Homo sapiens: one gene and its partners. The protein of the gene in region 1 purifies or fractionates together with the protein of each later gene. This does not show direct contact. Each region holds a gene or a part of one and is shown in the gene's direction. Other genes may lie near its edges. The genes, in order: LEMD2, TRDN and VIPR2.

What was found.
Region 2: the proteins of LEMD2 (region 1) and TRDN purify together in Homo sapiens (co-immunoprecipitation; one large-scale study listed by IntAct). This does not show direct contact.
Region 3: the proteins of LEMD2 (region 1) and VIPR2 purify together in Homo sapiens (co-immunoprecipitation; one large-scale study listed by IntAct). This does not show direct contact.

What each region holds. Positions count from the first base shown.
Region 1 is NC_000006.12:33,772,131-33,775,782, reverse strand, and holds part of LEMD2 (LEM domain-containing protein 2), read left to right. Parts: intron 1-3,004; coding exon 3,005-3,155; 3' UTR 3,156-3,652. UniProt on the Homo sapiens protein: Nuclear lamina-associated inner nuclear membrane protein that is involved in nuclear structure organization, maintenance of nuclear envelope (NE) integrity and NE reformation after mitosis.
Region 2 is NC_000006.12:123,504,322-123,507,973, reverse strand, and holds part of TRDN (triadin), read left to right. Parts: intron 1-3,652. UniProt on the Homo sapiens protein: Contributes to the regulation of lumenal Ca2+ release via the sarcoplasmic reticulum calcium release channels RYR1 and RYR2, a key step in triggering skeletal and heart muscle contraction.
Region 3 is NC_000007.14:159,033,242-159,036,893, reverse strand, and holds part of VIPR2 (vasoactive intestinal polypeptide receptor 2 isoform 1 precursor), read left to right. Parts: coding exon 1-142; intron 143-881; coding exon 882-942; intron 943-2,243; coding exon 2,244-2,313; intron 2,314-2,589; coding exon 2,590-2,681; intron 2,682-3,652. UniProt on the Homo sapiens protein: G protein-coupled receptor activated by the neuropeptides vasoactive intestinal peptide (VIP) and pituitary adenylate cyclase-activating polypeptide (ADCYAP1/PACAP).

The sequences.
Region 1 (3,652 bases):
CATTTTACCTATAAGGGAACTGAGGCACAGGGAAGTAGAGGAATGTGCTCAAGAGTCCCATGGCTAGTGGCATTTCCGTGCTCCCGCCACCAGGCTCTACTGTCAACATCATCCCTATCTGCAACCCAAGAGGAATCAGAAAAATAGAGCCGTTAGCAGTCCACTTTAAGTCAGGCACAGTGGCTCACACCTGTAATCCCAGCATTTTGGGAGGCCAAAGTGGGAGGATTGCTTGAGCCCATGAGTTCAAGACCAGCCTGGACAACATAGCAAAACCCCATCTCTACAAAAAATAGATATTAGTGGGCATGGTGACACATGCCTGTAGTCCCAGCTACTCAGGAGGCTGAGGCAGGAGGATCACTCGAGCCCAGGAGGTCGAGGCAACAGTGAGCTATAACTATGCCACTGCACATCAGCCTGGACAACAGAGCAAGACCCTATCTCTTAAAAAAATAAAAAAAAGGTCCATCTTAAACATGAAGGTGCTTGTTGCCTGTCATGCTCACCTCACCCCTGGAAAGGTGGCAGGCAGGAAGTTTAGAGTGAGCAGACTCACAGCAGCATGGGCTGTGCTTGCTCTGAGGAGCGCTTGCTGTTGGTTTCAGCGTGAGGCCCTCTACCTCCCAGGGAGGGTGACTTGGGGTACTCAAACTCCCACCCAATTCCTGGCCCTGGCAGGAGTATCGTGACAATGAGCATCTCAGTCAACCTGTGCCACAGTTTCCTTATCCTAAAATGCAGGTGATCCCGCTGCCTTGCACAGGGCTGTGACGAAGAGACTATCATTCATTCATTCATTCATTCATTCAGTTCCTCCACAAATGTTTATTGAGCACCTACTACATGCCAGACACCCTACTGGGTCACAGGGAGACAGCAGGAAGTGGAAGAAACAAAAATCCCTGTCCAGCTGGAGCATTTGTTCTCAGGAAGGAGACAGATGACAAGATGCATAAGGAAAAGATGTGATATTAGGTAGTGACAAGCCCTAAGGGAAGGGGGGTTGGTATCAGGGTGGTGGCCTCAAAGTTCATTAAGTCACTGCCTAGTAGCCAGGCACGGTGGCTCATGCCTGTAATCTCAGTACTTTGGGAGGCCAAGGTGGGTGGGCCACCTCAGGTCAGGAGTTCGAGACCAGCCTGGGCAACATAGTGAAACCCCATCTTTACTAAAAATACAAAAATTAGCCGGGCATGGTGGCATGCACCTGTAATCCCAGCTACTCAGGAGGCTGAGGCATGAGAATCACTTGAACCCAAGAGGTGGAGGTTGCAGTAAGCCGAGATCATGCCATTGCACACCAGCCCGGGTGACAGAGCGAGACCCTGTCTCAAAAAAAAAAAAAAAAATGGGAGACCAAGGCGGGCAGATCACAAGGTCAGGAGTTTGAGACCAGCCTGGCCAATGTGGTGAAACCCCGTCTCTACTAAAAATACAAAAATTAGCCGGGCATGGTGGCAGTCACCTGTAGTCCCAGCTACTCGGGAGGCTGAGTCAGGAGAATCACTTGAACCCGGGAGGCGGAAGTTGCAGTGAGCTGAGATCACACCACTGCACTCCAGCCTGGGTGACACAGTGAGACTCCATCTCAAAAAAAAAAAAAAAAAAAAAGTCAGTGCCTAGCACGTGGGCATCATCCAAGGGTAGCCATTATGCCTTGGGCTTAAATGATATTCCACACACATATTTGCTTAAATAAGAGCATGAGACGGCACTGCAGCTTGCCTGCAGCCGGAGCTACCACCCAAGCCTTCGTGCATTAGCATAGATACCCAGAGCTGCTGCCACTCAGGTAGCCGGCCCTCAGGGTCAGAGCCATGTGAACCCCAGACGCCCATGCTCTGTTTGCTCTCTTGACTTACCTCCCAAGCCACCCAGTCAGTCCAGGCCAAGCTCCCCACGTCAGGAGACATTGGCTAGCCAGTCAGGTCTGCCCTGTAGATGAGGGCCTGCTTGGGAAAGACTGAGGGAGATGAGAAGAACTGGCCTGGGAAGGAGGGGCTGGAGTGAGACACTGCCCACTCAACACTGGCCGCTTCCTGCTCAGGGACCCAGCACCTTGGAGCTCAGTCCCCAGGGAATGTGTGGCCTCGGCCAGACCAGCCAAGTTGGGGCTGCTGAATAGGCCCATGGGGTTTGGTTGGTGACAGGTCCTGACCCCTGGGGAAGCCCTAGCCCCCCCCCCGCCTCCTGACTCACTGGCCACCTCCGTTTGTCCTCCCCTTCTGCTCCCATGCGTACACACTCACAGTCACTGTCTTTCCACGTGTGGTGTCATGGGGAGGTGGGCTGCAGTGATGAGAAAAGGCTGGGGGCTGTGCAATACCATGCTTCACAAAGGGAGAAGATCAAAGTGACCCTCCCCCATGGCTTTGGAACCTTCTTGTCCAGTCTGGAAGGGGGGAAGAAGAGATGAGGGGAAGGCTGTCCAGGGGGGTGCAAGGCCCTAGAGACCCAGCAGAGAAGGGACTCTGGCCACTGAAGGGGCCCTCCGTTGTGGCTCTGGTTCCCTAGAGCAGCTCCAGCTTCTTGGCCTCCCCCGTCTGATGCTTAGCTCATCCCATCCCCTGGAGTGCTGTGGAGCTTAGATGAAACAGCCCAGTGCTCACTCTTCAATGAGCCCACCCAGAGCAGCATCAAGATGCAGTTGGCGGGGTACTGGAACTGGCTTGGCAAGGGCTGCGCAGGCAACAGGTCCCAGCAAGAGTCAGCTAGCCTAGCACAGCCCTGCACACCTGGAGACCTGGGGGTGCTCCAGACACCTCGGCCCTTTAGCTCCCTTTAATTGAATGTGTTTGGATCAGTGAAGGTTGAGGAATCATTTCTCTATGGCCCAAGACGTTTTTCTCCTCTGCAGTTGTCATGTTAGTACCTGCCAGCTTTTCCTCTCTTACATAAATTCCATGCCAGAGCCTGGAAATGTGTGCCCTTTGTAGGAGGGGCATCCACAGGCTGGCTCACCTCGGCAGTGCCAGGCAGAGCCCCGTCCCTCTCATTGCAGGAGGCGCATGAAGCGTGTCTGGGACCGAGCTGTGGAGTTCCTGGCCTCCAACGAATCCCGGATCCAGACGGAGTCCCACCGCGTTGCAGGAGAGGACATGCTGGTGTGGAGATGGACTAAGCCCTCTTCCTTCTCTGACTCAGAGCGATAAGCCCCGGGCGGGGACTTGTTCCCGGTCAGCCTGTCCCAGGACAGCCCACTCCAGAGGCACAGGAGGGTCACCAGGCCTGCGGTGCTGAATTCACACTTGCCTTGACTTTCAGTCTCGTCCTGACACGATTCCAAAGGTCTGCCATACTCTTCAGAGGAGTTCGGCTCGCAGGAAAATGTGGGCTTCCTTTAAAGGGAGGGGGAGAAGCCAGGGTGATAGCCCAGACTCTGCCCTGTTGTGCTGGCAGAAACGGGGAGAAGGGTTGAGTTTTCATGAATAGAAAACAAGAGCAGCAGCTGTCAGGCCCAGCTGACAAGCGTGGGGCTGGTGGGCTGGGGCATGGCCACGCCAGGGAGTCTGTCACCTGGGAGGTGGGGCAGGGATGGTGTTTCGGGTGGCGGGATGGGGAGCAGCTTGGTCCATGTGCCTTCAGGGGGTTGTTACTTGAGAGCTCCAGGGTGAAGGGAGAAAGCCTGTGCTCTGGCTGGCTGGGCCTC
Region 2 (3,652 bases), about 90 Mb from region 1:
AGAGAAAAAAGTTAAGCAGTTTGCAGTTCTTTATGGAATGAGAGAGAAAATTTGTTATTTTCTAACTCCCAACATGTGTAGTATGTTTCTTGAGGGATACTATTCTATTTAATACTTTGGCATCAGACATTCTGAATCTGATGCAGTAGCTAATGGATCACGCTAATTCCAAGATTGAATCAAATATGCTGATGTCATTTTTTTTGATTAGGCCATTTTGTTTTCCATTTGACAAAAGTCATGAATAAAATGCCTTCCTAAATAAAACTGGGTGATTTGAATACCCATGGCAATACTTTTTGTTTTTTTCATTCCTTAATAAATTTCGTCACTTAAATTATTTTAGGGAAAAATCAGGAAAAATATTTTGGCACAAAATTGAAGAATGTGTACTCAAAAGTAAATAGAAGTTGGGTGTTGCTTTAGTTTCATGATATTTTCTTTATTATAGCCACATCATTGTTTAGTTGTCACTCATTTTTTTCTACTATGAGGCAAAGTTATCTATTTCCAGAGTGAATGTGATTGAAGAGTGTCTAAAATAGTAGAAAATATTTTATTATTTTTATACTTAAAGTCAATGATTATAATGAGTTGGCTATATATGTGGTTCTACCTCTTAGAAAATAATCATTGCCCACTTATAAATTATAATGGCATTAAAAAGAAATCTGAATTTCACACATCTATAGTTCCATACTATAAAGTTAAGGTTAAATCAACTGTAACTTACAAGGAGTAGATAGCTGTCATTTAGAGTAAGCAAATATAACAATTTCATACAAATTAGTATAAACAAAAAAAAAAGTTGGCAAGTTTAACAGGTTTAGACAAGTTTATTTCTAAACACATATTTACATAATGCAGTCTCTATATCACTATATTATACATATGATCTGAGTATAGTGGAATATTTACTCTCTCCATCAAAATTGCTAATCCAGTATACATTTATCCTCTGTTTTCTCTGAAAGAAGCATTGTGCTAGACACTATGGTGATACAAAAATAATAATAGAATTCCTGCCCCTAAGCACTGTCTGTCTGGTAGGGAAGACAGATAGATCAAACTATCTATATTTCAAGATATATAATAAAGAATAAAATGTATAATTTAATAAAAATTCAGAAAAATGGAAGCTCATGGGAAGACATTATTAATTCAAATGGGAGAGCCATTTTTTTGCATGTGAATTGACCATGAAGAAATTTAATCCCAGCACTTTGGGAGGCCGAGGCGGGTGGATCGCCTGAGGTCAGGAGTTCAAGACCAGCCTGGCCAACATGGTGAAACCCCATCTCTACTAAAAATACAAAAATTAGCTGATGTTGGTGGTGCACACCTGAAATCCCAGCTACTCGGGAGGCTGATGCAGGAGAATTGCTTGAACCCGGGAGGCAGAGGTTGCAGTGAGCCAAGATTGCACCATTGCACTCCAGCCTGGCAACAGAGCCAAGAGTCTATCTAAACAAAAAAACAAAAAGACAAAAATAAATAAAAAAGAAATAAAGAAATTTAAATATGTGGAAAAATATAGAAAATATAGAGAATGCAGTCTGACAACAGTTGACACATGGAAAAATACATAAAATATTCAAAAGAAAGAAAGCAGTCCAGTAGAGGAATAAATTTTTGGAAAAGTGCTGTAACATGGGAGATAGGAGGAAGCCAGATATTGCACGGTTTTAATTTTGCTGTGCTAAAATTTATTCAGGTAGTTTTATTATTATGCTGATTTTTAGAGCTCCAGCAACTAGCTGTGAGCCCAGGTCAACATAGACTCTCTAGAAGTGTTTTTTAGGTGAATGAGTTGCATGAGATTGAGGTGCTGTTGACCACTCCAGTGAAACTTTCTTTCCAGACAGACACTAATAAACATTCCAGTGTGGAATTCTGGAATGATTTCAATTTAAAGTCATCCGCAGAAAGCTGCTGGTTTCAGTCACAGAAACATATGAGTTTACTGCAGGAAAGAGCAGAAACCAGCAAAGGAGGTTTAGAAATGATTTATAGGAAGAAGAAAATCCCCTGAGTGTAGTTACAGAAGCCACAAAGATGTTGAAAGTTTATGGACATGTGAAACCCCATCTCTACTAACAATACAAAATTAACTGGGCTTGGTGATAGGCGCGTGTAATCCCAGCTACTTGGGAGGCTGAGGCAGGAGAATTCCTTGAAACTGAGAGGCAGAGGTTGCAGTGAGCCGAGATCGTGCCACTGCACTACAGCCTGGATGACAAAGCAAGACTTCATCTCAAAAAAAAAAAAAAGTTTATAGAGTAATTGAGTAATATTTGTATGAGAATTTTATGATTAAACAATATTGAATAATGTGTGTATCATAATTCCCCTTCTTAAAAATTCTCAATACACTTCAGCTTTGAGAAAGTCCAAGCTAAATGACCAGGTTAGCTTATTGTTGCCAAATGAATTTGGCCATGAGAATATTCTCCAATACCTAATACAGTATCAACATCTTCCTGTAAATATCTGAAGTATCTGAGAAACAGTGTTTTGGGAAGTGCTGGCGTAGTCAATTAAGTGCGATACCACAGATGATTTTTGGTTTGCAAGCTAACCAGCATCTGGCATTATCATTTTCATTCTCTCAATGGGACCTTCTGATATTATCTTGGCTTAGCCTGAAATCATCATTTAGGGTACCAAAGTCAAGAAACTTGATTACATTTTTTCATTAAATTCTTTTTTTTTTTTTTTTTTTTTTTTTTGAGACAGAGTTTTGCTCTTGTTGCCCAAGTTGTGGTGCAATGGCGCAATCTCGGCTCACTGCAACCTCCGCTTCCCTGGTTCAAATGATTCTCCTGCCTCAGCCTCCTGAGTAGCTGGGATTACAGGCATGCACCACCACGCCCAGCTAATTTTTGCATTTTTAGTAGAGATGGGGTTTCACCCTGTTAGCCAGGATGGTCTTGATCTGCTGACCTCATGACCCGCCCGCCTTGGTCTCCCAAAGTGCTGGGATTACAGGCATGAGCCGCCATGCCCGGCCTTCATCAAATTCTTTAACATGAGTGACAATAAAGGCTACACAGTGCATTAGCAAATGACATAGAGGATTCCAACATTGCAGTAGAGTTGCTGTGGTGTATAGTGGTTATGTGTAGTCACATACAAAAAGGAATGTCCAATATTCAGCATCTATTATGAACAATTTTCCACAAATTATGTGCTACATTATTACTGCTTTTTAAAAGATGCTTGAATGATCCACAGACTAGTTATTTGCATCACAGTTCCCTCTTCCAAAATACGGATAATATCAAATTAAGAATATATGTGTGTAATATATATATGTTCTAATTTATATATCTATTCATATATATTTTTATTTATAGCCCTTTGAATTTCCCATGATATGTTTAAGGGCTTTAAAAACTAGTAGAATTATCGCTGACTTAAGATAAACAGGAGCCAATATCTGAATTTCTTCACTTTCAGTTTTTCTAAGGCCAAATCATTAGACTATAGGTCTTTCAGTTATCTTCTAATGGATTTCATTGTTTTATTTCTGTTAGTCAACACCAATGCGATAATTTTACACTTGCATTACTAATTGTTGTCTTTAAAAAAGACTTTGTTGGCATTTCAGTTTCTTGAATGACCCTTAAGATCTTTCAGTTATCAAGCAAAA
Region 3 (3,652 bases), on another chromosome or scaffold:
AAGCTGAGCCTGGTCTTCCTGCAGTACTGCATCATGGCCAACTTCTTCTGGCTGCTGGTGGAGGGGCTCTACCTCCACACCCTCCTGGTGGCCATGCTCCCCCCTAGAAGGTGCTTCCTGGCCTACCTCCTGATCGGATGGGGTAAGTGTGCCCCTTCCCACCCACAAACCCTCCATCCCATCCCATCGGACCAAACAACGCAAACATTTTCAGCTCAGAAAACACTTTGCCGCCCCCGTAGAATGCATGTCAGGGTCATATCATGAAGAGCTCTTCCAGGATGACTGGAGGCTCCTACAAACAACACATTAATATTTCTGGTAACCAGGAACCTAGTTTAAAATACTCCCATTCCTGGCCCCTTGTACCCCCATTCAAACTGGGCTGTTAACAAGTAACAAAACGGTTTCCTCCTCCGCCTCTACCCACTTCACCTTTCACTGAGGGTGGGGATCAGAGAGGAGAGGCACACCAGGTAGCGGAAGCCTTGCCTTGCCCAGGGTTGGAAAGGGGTGCAAATTTGGGACATCCTCATGGACAGGATGAGGCAAACGTAGCCGATAGCTCCGTGGGTGGTCGCAAAAATCAGTGAACACATCTCCTTCTCCGCACGTTCAACTCCATGGCCTCCAGTAATAACCCTTCTCATGAGGAATGGCAAGTCTCAGATTCTCAGCTCTCAAGCGTGTGTTTAATTATCTTCACTGCTTACTAAGGCATGAGCATAAACTTGTAAATATTTACAAAGACTTTAAACAAGAGATTGCACTTAATATTCCCGTGAGAAAGCGTGTCCTTGAGGGTTTTGCTGGTGAAGGCACCCACCTGTGTGCGTGCACACCGCTCCGCTCCACCTGTGTAACCAGGCGTCTCTCTGCAGGCCTCCCCACCGTCTGCATCGGTGCATGGACTGCGGCCAGGCTCTACTTAGAAGACACCGGGTGAGTCCATGACCAGACTGCAACCTCGAAAACGGGCCCGGCAACATCTGGCAACATGAAGTCCTTTGGAAGCCAGAAGGTTACCTGGTTGGAAGGACAGGGAGCGTTTGCGGCCAACCGACAGCCACGCAGGAAGCATCTGGGCGATTCATGGGGAGAAATCCTGTGAGGTTGGAGTGTTGGAGGAAGCCCCGTGCAGGAGACAGGAAGTGAGCCAGGTTTTGCAGCATAGTTGAGATTGGGATAAGCCAGGCAGAGACTGGGGCAGCCCCTGCGGTGGGCACAGCGATGTCCACAGAAGAAAGCCAAGTGCCCTGCATGTTGTTTACCCGGAGCAAAGTGGAAGGTCAGGTGATGGTGGCTGCAGGGCCCCCCGGCACTTCCTAAGCACTGGTCTTGGCTCATGCGGCCCAGAGCGCTTTTCCACTATGCTCTCCCTGAGCGAGACCACGGCCCAGACATGAGCACGCGTGGTTCCAGCACAAATATCTTGCCTTTTAAAGGGCCTCAGTGTGCATCAGTTACCCACTGCTAAGTAACAAATCACTCCAAAATTTGGTGGTTTAAAACACCCACCGTCTAGTTACGGTGTGATTCTGCACCTGATGACCTGGGAGGACTCAGCAGCTTTGAGGACTGGTTCCCCTTGGTCCCCTTCAGCCAGTCTGAGACTGCACCAGCCTGAAGGCTCCTGCCCTCGGCCCCCGAGGGAAAGCATGGACCCAAGCCTGCAATGGAGATTCTGCTTTATGGGAGGGCTGCAGACTTCCAGCGCAGGGTGTGGACCCTGGGGAGAATCACTGAGGCGTTTTACAAGCCAGGGGTCACAGCTTCCTGCTGGAGACACCCCATGCGCTGAAAATCAAAACAAAATGCTATGAGCTGGAGAGCTGGTGGCTCTAAGGACGTTTTAAACCCTTTGCCATATACATGCAAACCATTCGGGAGGTGAGGGGAAGCTAATTTTCAGGAGGAAGGTTCTTTTCTCCTGATTTCAGCTGAATGGGGCTGACACACGTTCATGCTCAGAGTGGAGGGCGTCAGCAGCCCTCCTGCCCTTGTCCTGGCTTCTGGGGCCGCACCTCCATTCCTCCTCCCCACAAGCCGACTATTGTTTTGAAAGCATGAAACAAAACACAATCACTCCCTGGGACAGATTCCTTTACGATCTGTCAGTGCAGAGAAATTGTGCTTCCACGGTGAGGGGAGTGGGCAAGTTGGGAGGGGCAGGCGCTCATTCTTCTGTACCTGTCTTGCGAAAGTGGTTGGTGGTAACCTGATTTCCCATCTCTCTCTGACAGTTGCTGGGATACAAACGACCACAGTGTGCCCTGGTGGGTCATACGAATACCGATTTTAATTTCCATCATCGTAAGTAGTCCCTGTTGACATGTGGATTATCTGTGGAATCACACACTTGGGCAGACAGCAAGCCTGCCATCCTTTATTAAATAGAACTGACCCCATTCCACGCATCACTCAGCCTTCCCGGAAAAGGACCTCTTCAGGCATGTGGACCCCCAGAGGCAGTTCCCAGGGAAGGAGGGAGGGACTGAGGGAGCGGAGGGGAGGGTCGAAATCAGGTGGACTTCAGGGCAAATTAGGGATCCACGTGTCTGTTTCACAAACTTATTATCTCTTGTGCAGGTCAATTTTGTCCTTTTCATTAGTATTATACGAATTTTGCTGCAGAAGTTAACATCCCCAGATGTCGGCGGCAACGACCAGTCTCAGTACAAGTGAGTGTGTGTCCCGGCCTGGCCGTCCCTGATGGGGATGCCGTGTGGAGACAGGAGACCCCCACGCTGCCAGGAAGGCCCTGGAGGTGCGGCGACTCCGCCTCCGCCACTGTCACACCTCGAGGCTGGGCCCCAGGGCTCTGCTCCTGCCCAAGGCTCAGAGAGGCCCTGGACAGCATTTCCCTGGCGAAGTAACAAATCACTCCAAAATTTGGTGGTTTAAAACACCCGCCATCTAGATAGGGTGTGATTCTGCACCTGATGACCTGGGAGGACTCAGCAGGGGCACTTCTGGCCTTGGCAACTGTGGAAGTCAGGCACCATTTCTTTTATTTCAAGGCCAGAAGAAAGTCCTCTCCAGTGAACTTGCTTGTTTAAGCATCCGCCCACTTACATGTTATACAGCCTGTCTTTTTCTCCTTGACCACACAGTATTTTTTATTTTACATTTAATTCTGTCTCCCCCTCAGACATGGCCATGTGTCCATGGCCGTGTGTCTACTGCCAGCCCTAATACCAGGCCTTGTACTTAATAAAAATTCAGAAAGCGTTTCCTGCCCACGTGATTACATGAAGATGGCATTGTGATCTCCCTTCAGTAGATGAAGACAGGGCAGACGTTCAGCCAGTCACCCCCAGTCATCCAGCTAATTCATGATGATCCGGGGAATCTATAAAGTAATGCAAAGACTCCATAAATTTATATCAAGAATTTATTTTTTTTTAAAAAGGTAAAAACCAAAATTCAAGTATAAACTAAACACTGGCTTGGTGTGGAAGTGGTTGGCCCAGCCCAGAAGGTGCCTCGGGCTCAGACTGACCGGGGGTGGAAGGGCGGCTGTGCACAGAGCTGTACCATGGCAGGAACCCTGCCGCCCAGCCTAGGAGGGTGCCTGGCCTGCATTTCCCTTTTCTCCCACCTTAGAAAACAGGGATGGATTTGGGGAGGGGCGGTTAGACAGGAGCATGGC